Linked DNA regions of Homo sapiens: region 2 is linked to region 1. A link means that fine-mapping ties the variant in region 1 to the expression of a gene that starts in the linked region. Tissue or cell type: monocytes. Region 1 holds a variant in brackets; the other region holds the start of a gene. All regions are shown on one strand. Distances are from middle to middle.

Region 1 (5,000 bases):
AAATGATAGTAAACTTTGCGCATGGTGGTTTCTCCCTGAGGTTGGCTCCAAAATCAATATGAAAAGAAAACCACAACTGAAAATATTTTAGAGCCTAGAGTGATTAAAATAACTGACTTTCTGTTTTAGCGGAAACAAGTTACAAGAAAGAATTACAATATCTCCTCACATCTCTGGGTCTTCACAGATCTCAATCGTAATTCAGAGCCTCACTTGGGAAACACAGGGGACTTGGAGCAGGAATCCTGGCTGTGAAGTCATTGAGGAGGATTCGAGTGTTAGTCAGGCCCTTCCAGCTGAAAATGATTCATTTTAATTACCTTCCAGGGTGATCCGATACCTGAGCATATGGTCTTTAAGAAATAAGGTTCCCCAAACTGTCAGCAAGTGTGGGCAATGGTCAGGGACCTCTTTCTGACACCATTGACCAGCCTTGGAGAGCGGGCGCTCTAGAAGGTGCTTATTAAAATGCCAGCAGGTGCAGCAAAGGTCCCCTTCTCTGTGACTCCCGCACCCTGCTTGTGCCAGGTGTTTTATAAGAGCCTTTTTCTTCATTAAATGGCATTCATTAAGCACGTCCTTACACCTGGCACAGAAGCTGTGCGTCACAGATGACTTCTTCCCAGTGGTGTTTGCAGGAATAATGTGGAATTTCATTTAGCCATTTGCTGTGTTCTTCTTCCCCTTCCTATCTTAACTTGATTTTTGTTGCTTTTCATATTTCTTCTGCTGCCCCCACAATCCATTCCTCTCCTTTGTACATGACCTCTGGTCTTTGTCCACCAGCAGACACATTATATAGAAAACAAGGTGTCCCTTCAGCACCAAGCACCACCACGCTGGATGCTTTCATACGTGTGTCTCTTCTACTCTCCCAACCACATTGAGAAGTGTTCCCCTAGTTTTTGCCATCTTTTTTTCTGATTAAAAGAAATAATTTCTCATCCAAAAAAATTAACACTTAAAACATATGGAAGAGCAGTGGGGAGAATCCACACTCCCATCTTAGAGGCTTCTGTCGTCAATACCGTGAGCCTCTCCTGCCCCTCAGTCACCTCTAAGTTACTCCCTCCAGCCCTTTGCTGTACTGTAGCTTAGCCGTGTGTGCCCATGGAAAAAAGATTGTCTTATGGGATTGTTTATAATACATCATTCTGCAACTTTGTTTTTGCTTGGCTGGTTTTTTGGTTTTGTTTTACTTAACAGCCAGTCTTTGGGAGTTGGGCATTTCTACAGAAAAATCTCTGGCTCTCTTCATCTATTCGTTCTGTCCTACTTTAGTATTATATGAAAATTCCACATTTTATTAGCCTCCTCTTATTGATGGTCATTGGGCTGCTCCCAGTTCATTGCCATGACAAATGCTGCCCCAAGGCCCTGGTTCCTGTCCTTTCCTTCCACAGCTGAGATCATATTCCATACACAGATCCCGAGCATCTCACTCCAACCCTCTCCACAAAGCCTGTAAACATCATTTTATGTCTGCATAATATTCTGAGTCAGACATAGTAACATTATTTCCAGTTTTTGAGTAGACCGTCATAATTAAGAGCATGAATTGTGTAATTGGCCCCATCAGCATTCAAATCCAAGCTTCTGCATACTCTGTGTTCAAGTCCAAGCTGTATCCAGCAGAGAGGCAAGCTGTGGAGCCTCTCTGAGACACCTGTGGAGTAGGGGGGGTCTCAGCAACTCGCCGTAGGATTGGGTTAGGGATCATAAGATGCATATGACAGGTACACGCTGTAAACAAGTCAACTGATGATATTTTTAAATTTTCTTAAATAGGTCATTTCCCACATTTCAGGTTCTTTCCTCAAATCTCAAAAAGGGAAGAATAAATGCTGGTCCTTTTGTCGCATTACTTCCCCTTTCTTAAGTATTAAATTTGAATCATCTGGAATGTATTATTAAGTGTTTCTCCTAGAGAAGGTGACATGAGTAATCTTCTGTTGTCTTCCTGCACAAAAGACAACTTGAAGTCATACAAAATTGCTGAATCACAACTATTTTCACCTTCAAAACTGGCTGCGTCGTCTTCCAGCATTTAGTATGGCAGAGGAAAAGTCTGAAGTCACCATCAGTATTTGCCAGGATGTATCCTCTTTTCATTGCATTTTCTGGAATCCTGTGAACCCCATTGG[T/TTGTGTGTG]TGTGTGTGTGTGTGTGTGTGTGTGTGTGTGTGTGTATAAGGGTTGGGAGATCAAAGTGGCAGGTGCCTCTGACTATGAGTGCGCCTCTGCCTTGCTAGTCACCACTCTCTCGACGCTGCCCTTTGACAGTCTGGGAGGACAGCAGGCACTGCAGCTGCCTGGGCAGAACCATCTTCATTATATGTGGCCACTGGGTCTACAAGATTAATGGTAACATTTTAAAAATTCACACAGACCTGGAATCAGCACTAGAAAATACAGATTTAAATTAACAAGGAAAAAGCAGAATCCCATCAAAGGAAATAAATCGTGCTGGCAACTATTGTCTCATAATAAAATATATTCTATAACTGAAGGGCTTTTATATGGAGCTGTCTGCAGCTTAGTGGCCATGTTAATTGAATAAGGTGCCTAAGACTGACTTGGGGGAAAAAATGAAATTCCCCTCAGCATGTATTTAGCTGGAGCCGTCATCGCTGGCAGTGCGTGCTTGCTGACCTGTTTGTTACAGAACAGCCAATCCCTCCTGCAGAGAGACGTGATGGCCACCAGAAGCAGCAGGGTGAGAGCCCTGTCTCCTCCGGGCAGTTCCGTGGGCAGGGGGAAGGGGAGGATAGCTTGGTAACACTCCCCGAGGATTTAGGGACTGTTCCAGTTACAATTCTCCAGTGACCAAACAGATTTTGGAATAATAATCCATCATTTGAGTCAAGTGGCAGACATGGTTGTCCTCTGATGGACAGCCCTTGCTCCAGGGGTCCAAGACCTACTGGGGAAGGTGCCAGAAGGCCTTCACCTCCTGGCACTATCCTAAGTAGAGACAGTTTCTCGAGCCTTTGAGTCTCCTTCTCCTCAGTCTGCTGGGGAGCTTTATGAACTCTCCTAAAATCTAAACTCATGGATCTGCCTACAGAGTGGTCAACTTCGGGCCCACTAAAATGACTCCACTGAAACTGCTGTCCATAAGTGCACCAGCCACCATCATTCTCGTGGACCTCTCAGGTTTTTTTTTTTAATTTTTATCTATTTATTTATTTTGAGACTGGATTATAAAACTGGCTAATTTTTGTTTGTTTGTTTGTTTGTTTTTTGGTAGAGATGGGGTTTCACCATGATGCCCAGGCTGGTCTCAAACTCCTGGGTTCAAGTGACCCACTCGCCTCGGCCTTCCAAAGTCCTGGGATTATAGGCATGAGCCCCCACTCCCAGCCGGCCTCTCGGTTTTGTTTGATGCTGTCGAGTACCTACTCATTCTTATAACTCCCTTGGCTGGGAGCTGCAGAAGAGGTGAGTGTCCAATGCCAGTGGCCTAGTGCAGCTCCTGATCTCTTGCTTCCTCCCTCCTCCAGGTACAGGGTCGTGATCGGGGCCTTCCTTCAGTCTCTCCTTAGACAATCCAACCTGTTTATTCTCATGAACCAGAGGCCTTTGTATGGGAAAGAAGCCAAAGAGTATTGGGTTAACTGACCACGATTCCAAGCATGAAAATAAGGACTTTCTGTCTATGGATGCCAGTCCATAGACACTGGATGCTGTGGTCATAGGCATAGGCACTGACCAATAAAGAGTCTTCTAAAATATTTTAAAAGACAGCCAAATATTTCATGAAACAGTGGTACCACAATTTTTTAACCAGTCCTCCATTGTTTGATTGTTCATCTGATTCTAGTTTTTGGCTTTATAAGTAGTGCCGTGATGAATTTATTGTTTACGTAAAAATATCGTGAATCAGAAATAGTTGCATTTTCCAAGCCATTAACCAACCCAGTCGTGGGGATGAGAAGGAGAGAAGAGACAAGGCTTCCTGGAAGTTTCCCGAAACTATCCCTAATTATAAGTCAGAATCAGATCAACAAGTAGTAGGTAATCTTAGAGGATTTTCCCTAATATTTGTTAAGCGCTCACTGTGTACTGGGCATTGTTCTCGCCCCTGGGGATGTGGTGGGAAGAAAAGGTGTGGTGGAGATCATGTTCTGGTGACATGAAAACAAGTCAGACAGCCCGATAGAGTGGGAAGGGCGCCACAGGGAGGAGGCAGGTGTTATAAGAGTGTGGCGGGGTGCCTCCTCAGAAGGGTGGCCTGACTGGGGAGGGAAGCCAGCCGCTGAGATCTGGGGACAGTGGCAAGTGCAAAGGCCCTAAGGCAGGAACAAGAGCAGAGGCTGGAGGAACAAAAGCGGCTACTGAGGTTGGCAGACGTGAATGCAGGGAGGGTGGACAAGATGTGGTCAGAGAGGAGGGATGGGCCAGAGCTGGCAGCACTTCTCAGCCGTGGGCGGGTTTGGATTTCATCCTGATGCAGAGGAAAGGCCCCGTGGGTTCTGCTGTGGTGCTGCATGGAGGCCCTCATGAGCCAGACTCTAAAATAATGCCGGGGTGGCAAGAATGGGGAGAGTGGGAGTAGGATTGAAGCTCGCGTACTTGCATGTGCTCACGCATGCCTGGTTCCGTGCTGTCAACCCTGCCTGCATGGTGGCCCTCTGTGCCCTGGGAGGCAACACACCCCTGCCAAAGGCCATGTGACTCCCTGGTGCTGGCGCTGGGATTTGGACCCACATCCAGCGGACTCGGGGGCACTGCCCTCAACCACTACAACTGGTTTGCCTCCCTGGGTGTGCGATCGGGCCATTGGTCATCCAGCTCTGTATAGTTCACTGTAACCTGTCGGGATCACTGAGCTAGTGAGCGGCAGAGATGTCATGTCCCTGGCATCACTGATTTCAAAAGGGCCTTCAGGAGGGACCCTGTGGCCCTGATTGAGTAGTCTCATTTTATATACCCGATAGTGAAGCTGAATCGGGGTAACTCTAACATAGCGATAACCACCTCCGGAGGACACATGGACTGACCTCTTC
Region 2 (5,454 bases), 88 kb before region 1:
TGTTTCTGAGATAAGATCTTGCTCTGTTGCCTAGGCTGGAGTGCAGTGGCGTGATTATAGCCTACTGTAGCCTCAAATTCCTGGGTTCCAGCAATCCTCCCACCACAGCCTCCCAAGTAGCTGGGACCACAGGCACACACCACCATACCTGGCTCATTTAAAAAATCTTTTTAGAGACAGGGTCTCACTATGTTGCCCAGTCTAGTCGCAAACTCCTGGCCCCAAACAATCCTCCCACCTTGGCCTCCCAAAGTACTGGGATTACCAGCATGAGCCAACACACTCACGCCAATCAAGGTAAATTTTAAAATAATTTCATCATGTTCCATCTCACCTCACCCCTCAGATCATAGTGGTTTCTTGATCTGAATTTTACTAAATTTATAAAGTGAGTTGGGGAGACACAGCATCTTTGCACTGTTGAGACTTCCTGCCCAGGGATTTGTTATATTTTTCCGACTATTAAGATCTTCTTTTATGTCCCTCAGTCAGGTTTGTAGTTTTCTTTCCATGGACCTTCACATTTCTTGTTAAGCTTATGCCTAGTATATGCCTTATAGTATTCATTGCTAATGTGAATATGCTTTTTTTCCATCATACTTCCTAAATGGAAATAACTGGTATTTAGTGTTGTATTTGGAGGTCTCTGTAAGTAATACCTCCCTCCCTATTCTAAGTTTGGAACAAACTGGGGCATAGACACAGGAAAGAGACATAAGACAAAAATACTACCTTAATTTTTAATGAAGCTGACTGGAAAAAGTAGCTTTTGCTCTGTAGCTAAGTGGGCTTGCTATATTTCTCCCTGAATTGAGTAGATTTATTTGTGTAGTGGCGGGTGGTGCAGGAGAATAGTATCACTCTGTCCCTGAAACAGGTTCACTTAACCCACAGTGAGAGCGCATGGAAATATTTGCTCTCTGCAGTCAGCCAAATCCAAAAAGAGAACTCAGAAGCATCTATTCTTGTCCACTTTTTCCAAACTCACTCATCTTCCCTTAGAGTGGAGAGAGGCCAGAAGTCTTATTCTAATGGAAGTCCCTCTATATGGAAAAGAAGGCTTCTCCCTTCAATACCATAAGACAGGGTAAGGAAGAAAAAAAAGAATAATAATAATAATAATAATAATAATAATAAGAAGAAGAAGAAGAAGAAGAAGAAGGAAGGAGAAGGCTTCTCCCTTAACATTTAGGAAAACCATTGATTTTGGTGTTTATCTTATAACTGACCACCTTACCAAAGTCTCTATGATTTTTAGTTGATTTTTTTTATTTTTACTTTTTGGGAAACACTTAAATCATAAGCAAATAATGACAATTTTATCTCTTCCCTTCTAATATTTATATTTCTTATTTATTTTTCTTATCTTATTGCATTGGCTTTATTCTATAGCCATTATAGCAGGCATCCTTTTGACTGACTTACATGAGAATACCTTTAGTGTTTCACCATTAAATATGTTTGTTGATGGCTTCTGATAAACTTTGTCATGTTAAAAGTTTAAACTTTCTTCCTATAATAGTTTACTAAGAGTTTTTAGAAATTTATGGGTCATTAGTTTTGAAGTTTATAAAATACTTTTAAAGCATCTATCCCATTGATAATATCCTGTAATTTGTTTTCCTTTAACAATGCAATGCATTTACAAATTCCCTAATGTTGGATTTTTCTTGCGCCTCTGGAATAAATCTTGCTTGATCATGGTGGGTTTTCAGTTGCTTTAATAGTAAACTGGATTCAAATGGCTAAAATTGTATTTAATAGTTTTACGACTATTATATACTTAAATATATAGTGCAGATTCACATATTGAGGATTTATCAGTGAGCTTTAGAAGGTGGTCCTGGCTCAGATGAGTTTGGGAAATGCCAGGTTAAACAAACCAAACAGGTTTCTTTACTCCTGGACTTCACAGAGGCCTTCCTTAATATACGAATACTTATCGTGATTCTCCAAAAGGTACACTATAAACGGCATGCAGCACTTTCTCAAGTTGCCCACAGAAGCCCATTTTCAAAAAATAAATATTAAATTCTCTGGGGACTCGTGTTCTAGGTTAGTCATCTGCAGTTCTTTTTGGTATTGTCTGTTGGATTTTGGTATCAGGGTTATGCTAAACTTGGGAAATGAAATAAAAATTTTTGTTTCTTTTGTTTATTTTTTCCTGTGTAACAGTTTAAGTAACATAGGGATGATCTGTGCCCTGATGGGAGGATAAGGCTTGCTGTAAAGCCATCTGAACCCATGGCATTTCTGAGTAGTGAAGACACTGGGAATGCACACGTGCATGGCTTCCCTACAGGATGTTTCCCCCGACAGCCCATTCTGCTTGGCACCCTTCTCTTTAGGATCAAACAGCTATTATGGAAAAGCCTAGAATGTGTGAAAATGAGACTCAATGCATTAGCAAATCAATGCTGATCACTCCTGCATGGTCCTCAAGTCCTAACGAATGCTCCAGCCTCCTGGCAGGAAACCTTTCAAATCTTGCACACGCTGGCCTCTGCCTGGGGTGCCTGGCTGGGCGGTGTGGGGGGCATGGTTGGTTAAGGCGCAGAGTCCGCCTTTCCTACCAGCCACTCTAGCTGAGGGTCAAGCTCTGGACCCTCCCCCAACCATCCAGCTCCATTTTATCCTTGGCTTATGCCTTCCCCAAGTACTGCAGGGTAGGACTCCTGCTAAAAACTTCTTCTAGATGCTTGCCTGAGGCTGGCCCCATAAACCTGATTCTAGGCTTCTGGGGATAAATCATCTAACTAATATAAGAGAATTGCTAGGCAATTGGGGTTAGTTTGAGACGACTGGCTGAGCTCACCTTAGGTGAGCTGGGGGGTGGGGGAAGATGAGCTGAAGGATTCTAGGGTTCAGTGAAGCCTAGAATGGCTGGGTGGGCGGAGAGTCCTTAGAAGGGTCCAACTTCTAGCCTGAGGGCCTGGGGGCTTCCAGGGATCTGCAGCCGAGCGGAAGACCGGTCTTGCGTACAGCGAGGCCTACGAGAGCTAAGTGGGCTGAGGGTCCCTGGAAAAGACCAGCCTGGGGGCGGGGACCATCGATGCCCCAGGCTCTAGAGGCCGTGGGCTCCCGGGGGCCTGAGGCTGGACTGGGGTCGCCGGCGGGCTCGGGGAGGCCCGGGTGGGCGCACCGGGGCCCTGCCTGCGGCTGACGGGCTGGGTCGAGGGGGAGGCTGGGGAGGCGGGGTGCCGGCCGGGGCGGCGGCGCGGGCTCGGGACGCCAGGGCTCCCTCTCCCTCCTCCCGCCCGAGCCAGCCTCGGGCGCCGGGCGCCTCCCCCGATCCTGAACCAGCGCCAGCGCCGGGAGGCCCGGAGCCCGGCCCGCCGCCGCGGCCCGCGGAGGGAGCCGCCGCCGCCACTGCCGTTGTCGCCGCCGCCGCCAGGCCGCGCCCCGCCCCTCCGCCGCCGCCGCCGCCGCCGCCGCTCTCGGTGAGGCTCGCGCTCGAGCTGCGGCGCCGGCTCCTGCCGCCTGGGCCCCGGGCCCGGCCCCTCCCGCGCCGCCCGGGCGATGAGAAGCTGCTTCTGCGTGAGACGGAGCCGGGACCCGCCGCCGCCGCAGCCACCGCCGCCGCCGCCCCAGCGGGGAACAGTTAAGTGAGGCCCGGGCGCCGCGGAGGCTCGGCGGAGCCGGCCCTGCAGCCGGGAGGGCGGGCGGGCGGGCGCGGGCCCCCGGCCGAGGGGCGGGCGGACGGGAGGAGCCGGGCCGCGCCGAGGCCTGCGGGCTCCGTGCCCGGCCCGCGGCGGGGACAGGCCCGGGCGGCCTTTGCAGAGCCCCGAGCGCGCCGCGGCTGCCGGTGCCCGGGCTCGGCCTGGCGGCGAGAGGCGGGAGAAGCTGGGGGACCCGAGTGCCAGCAGCGCCCCCAAGGCCCGGGCAGGTGAGGGGCGCCGAGAGCCACCTCTGCCCGCGTGAGAGGGAGGCGGCCCACCTGGGCACAGACTGGGAACAGTCAATCGTTTGACCGGCCTGGCCTGGGGTCCTGCTCTCTCTGGTCACGTGGGTGCAGACCAACGTGCACCTGCCCCAGGAGCATCACTGCCTCTGTGACCTGGGCACAGCAGAGAGGACACCTAAACCCTCAGGCACCTGTCTGGAAGGTGACATGCCCAGCCTGGGTACCCGAGACCCAGAGCACCCATCCAGGAACATGGTGGGCACGTCGAGCACCCTACAGTGACTCCAACACCAGCGAGACGGGAGGAGCAGGGGCTGGGACAAGAGCTGAGGCATGGCACCAGGGGACATCACATCCTCAGAGGCAGGCACCAGGGAACGGGGTAGACCCAAGAGCATCTTTTGTCCTCTTTGTTACCAACACACAACTGTTCTAAATCAGCAGCCCTTCTCACCATGAAAGATGAGACTCTTCTGTTCCCTGCCCCTCAACACCTCTTGCACAAGGCACTGAGGAAGACCACAGGAGGGCAAAAGGCAAATGGTGGTTGCCCCTTCCCTGCTTCCTGCCCCCACCCAAGAACCAGAGCCCACTCCGATTGCTGCCACAAAAGCAGACAGCAGACCAGCTCCTCTTAGGGGCCTTTGTCTCTCGTGGTTCCTTCTCAGTATAATCTCATTGTACATTTCTCGACAGCTGGCTGGATCTCATCTCGTTTTAACAGGGCTGGGAAATCTTATCAGCGGCACCAGGAAAGCTTAGAGAGTTAAAAAATAAGCTCTGTGAAGCCTTGACTAACTGAAAAACTCAATGTGCTAGGATGTTTAGTTACAGTAGATGGTGACACCTTTCTTGCTTGTTAGAAATCATGTGGGGTCCTTGGAGATACTGTACCATGCTCAGAATCTTTAAATAGGGCCTCAGAGAGATGAGGCTTCTGCTTGGGACCCGGGCTCCAAGCCCCATGGGAAGCAGTTGACGTGGCGATTACTGGTTCATTTAAACCTAAACTTACCTTCTGTAATCCATATTTTTCATTCCTTCCTTCTAGGCTTTAGGTCACACTCCTAATTTAGGTTCAAGGCATTTTTCTTGCCCTGTCTCCATCCTGCTAGGGACCTTTTACCACTTCCAACTGGAATGTTGTGCCATGGTTATGTGCAGGGAGTTTAGAATTAGCCCTCAGCTTAAGTCTTGGCTTTCCTACTTACTTTGTGCCCTTGGACAAATTATTGAACTTTTCTGAGTTTCAGTTTCCTCATCTGTAGAGTGAAACTAATGATAGTATTCATCTCATGGGATTATGGCGTGATGTAAATGAAATTTTGCAAGAAAAGTCTAGCTCAGTGCCTGCTACATGGCAAGAAGTCAGTAAACGGTAGGGGTCATTATGAGAGGTTTGTTAACGGATGAATGAGAGGAGTAGCTTATTTATTTATTTTTAGAGTTTCTTTCTGTCTGCTTTTTTTTTGGTTTTTGTTTGTTTTTGAGACAGGGTCTCACTGTCACTCAGGCTGGAGTGCAGTGGTACCATCATGGCTCACTGCAGC

Which allele goes with the higher level. Alleles are on the strand shown, and positions count from the first base shown. SD is a standard deviation of normalised expression in the study named.
For the expression in monocytes of the gene that starts at base 3,419 in region 2, allele T in region 1 goes with a higher level than allele TTGTGTGTG (large effect, 1.0 SD a copy in CEDAR).

The links. PIP is the estimated chance that this variant, and not a neighbour inherited with it, causes the effect.
Region 2: it holds the start of MVB12B, and the variant in region 1 is fine-mapped to the expression of MVB12B in monocytes (CEDAR, PIP 0.95).

What each region holds. Positions count from the first base shown.
Region 1 is chr9:126,411,674-126,416,673 of GRCh38, forward strand. All of the region lies in intron 6 of MVB12B (multivesicular body subunit 12B), which reads left to right. Among named protein-coding and RNA genes, the nearest start is that of NRON, 3.7 kb to the left of the region's middle. RefSeq lists an enhancer at 4,015-4,607. The variant T/TTGTGTGTG (reference allele first, on the strand shown) is at 2,145.
Region 2 is chr9:126,323,411-126,328,864 of GRCh38, forward strand. MVB12B (multivesicular body subunit 12B) reads left to right here and starts at 3,419. Exons shown (of 10, transcript NM_033446.3): 1 at 3,419-3,600. The coding sequence starts at 3,520. RefSeq lists a silencer at 3,404-3,543 and an enhancer at 3,985-4,636.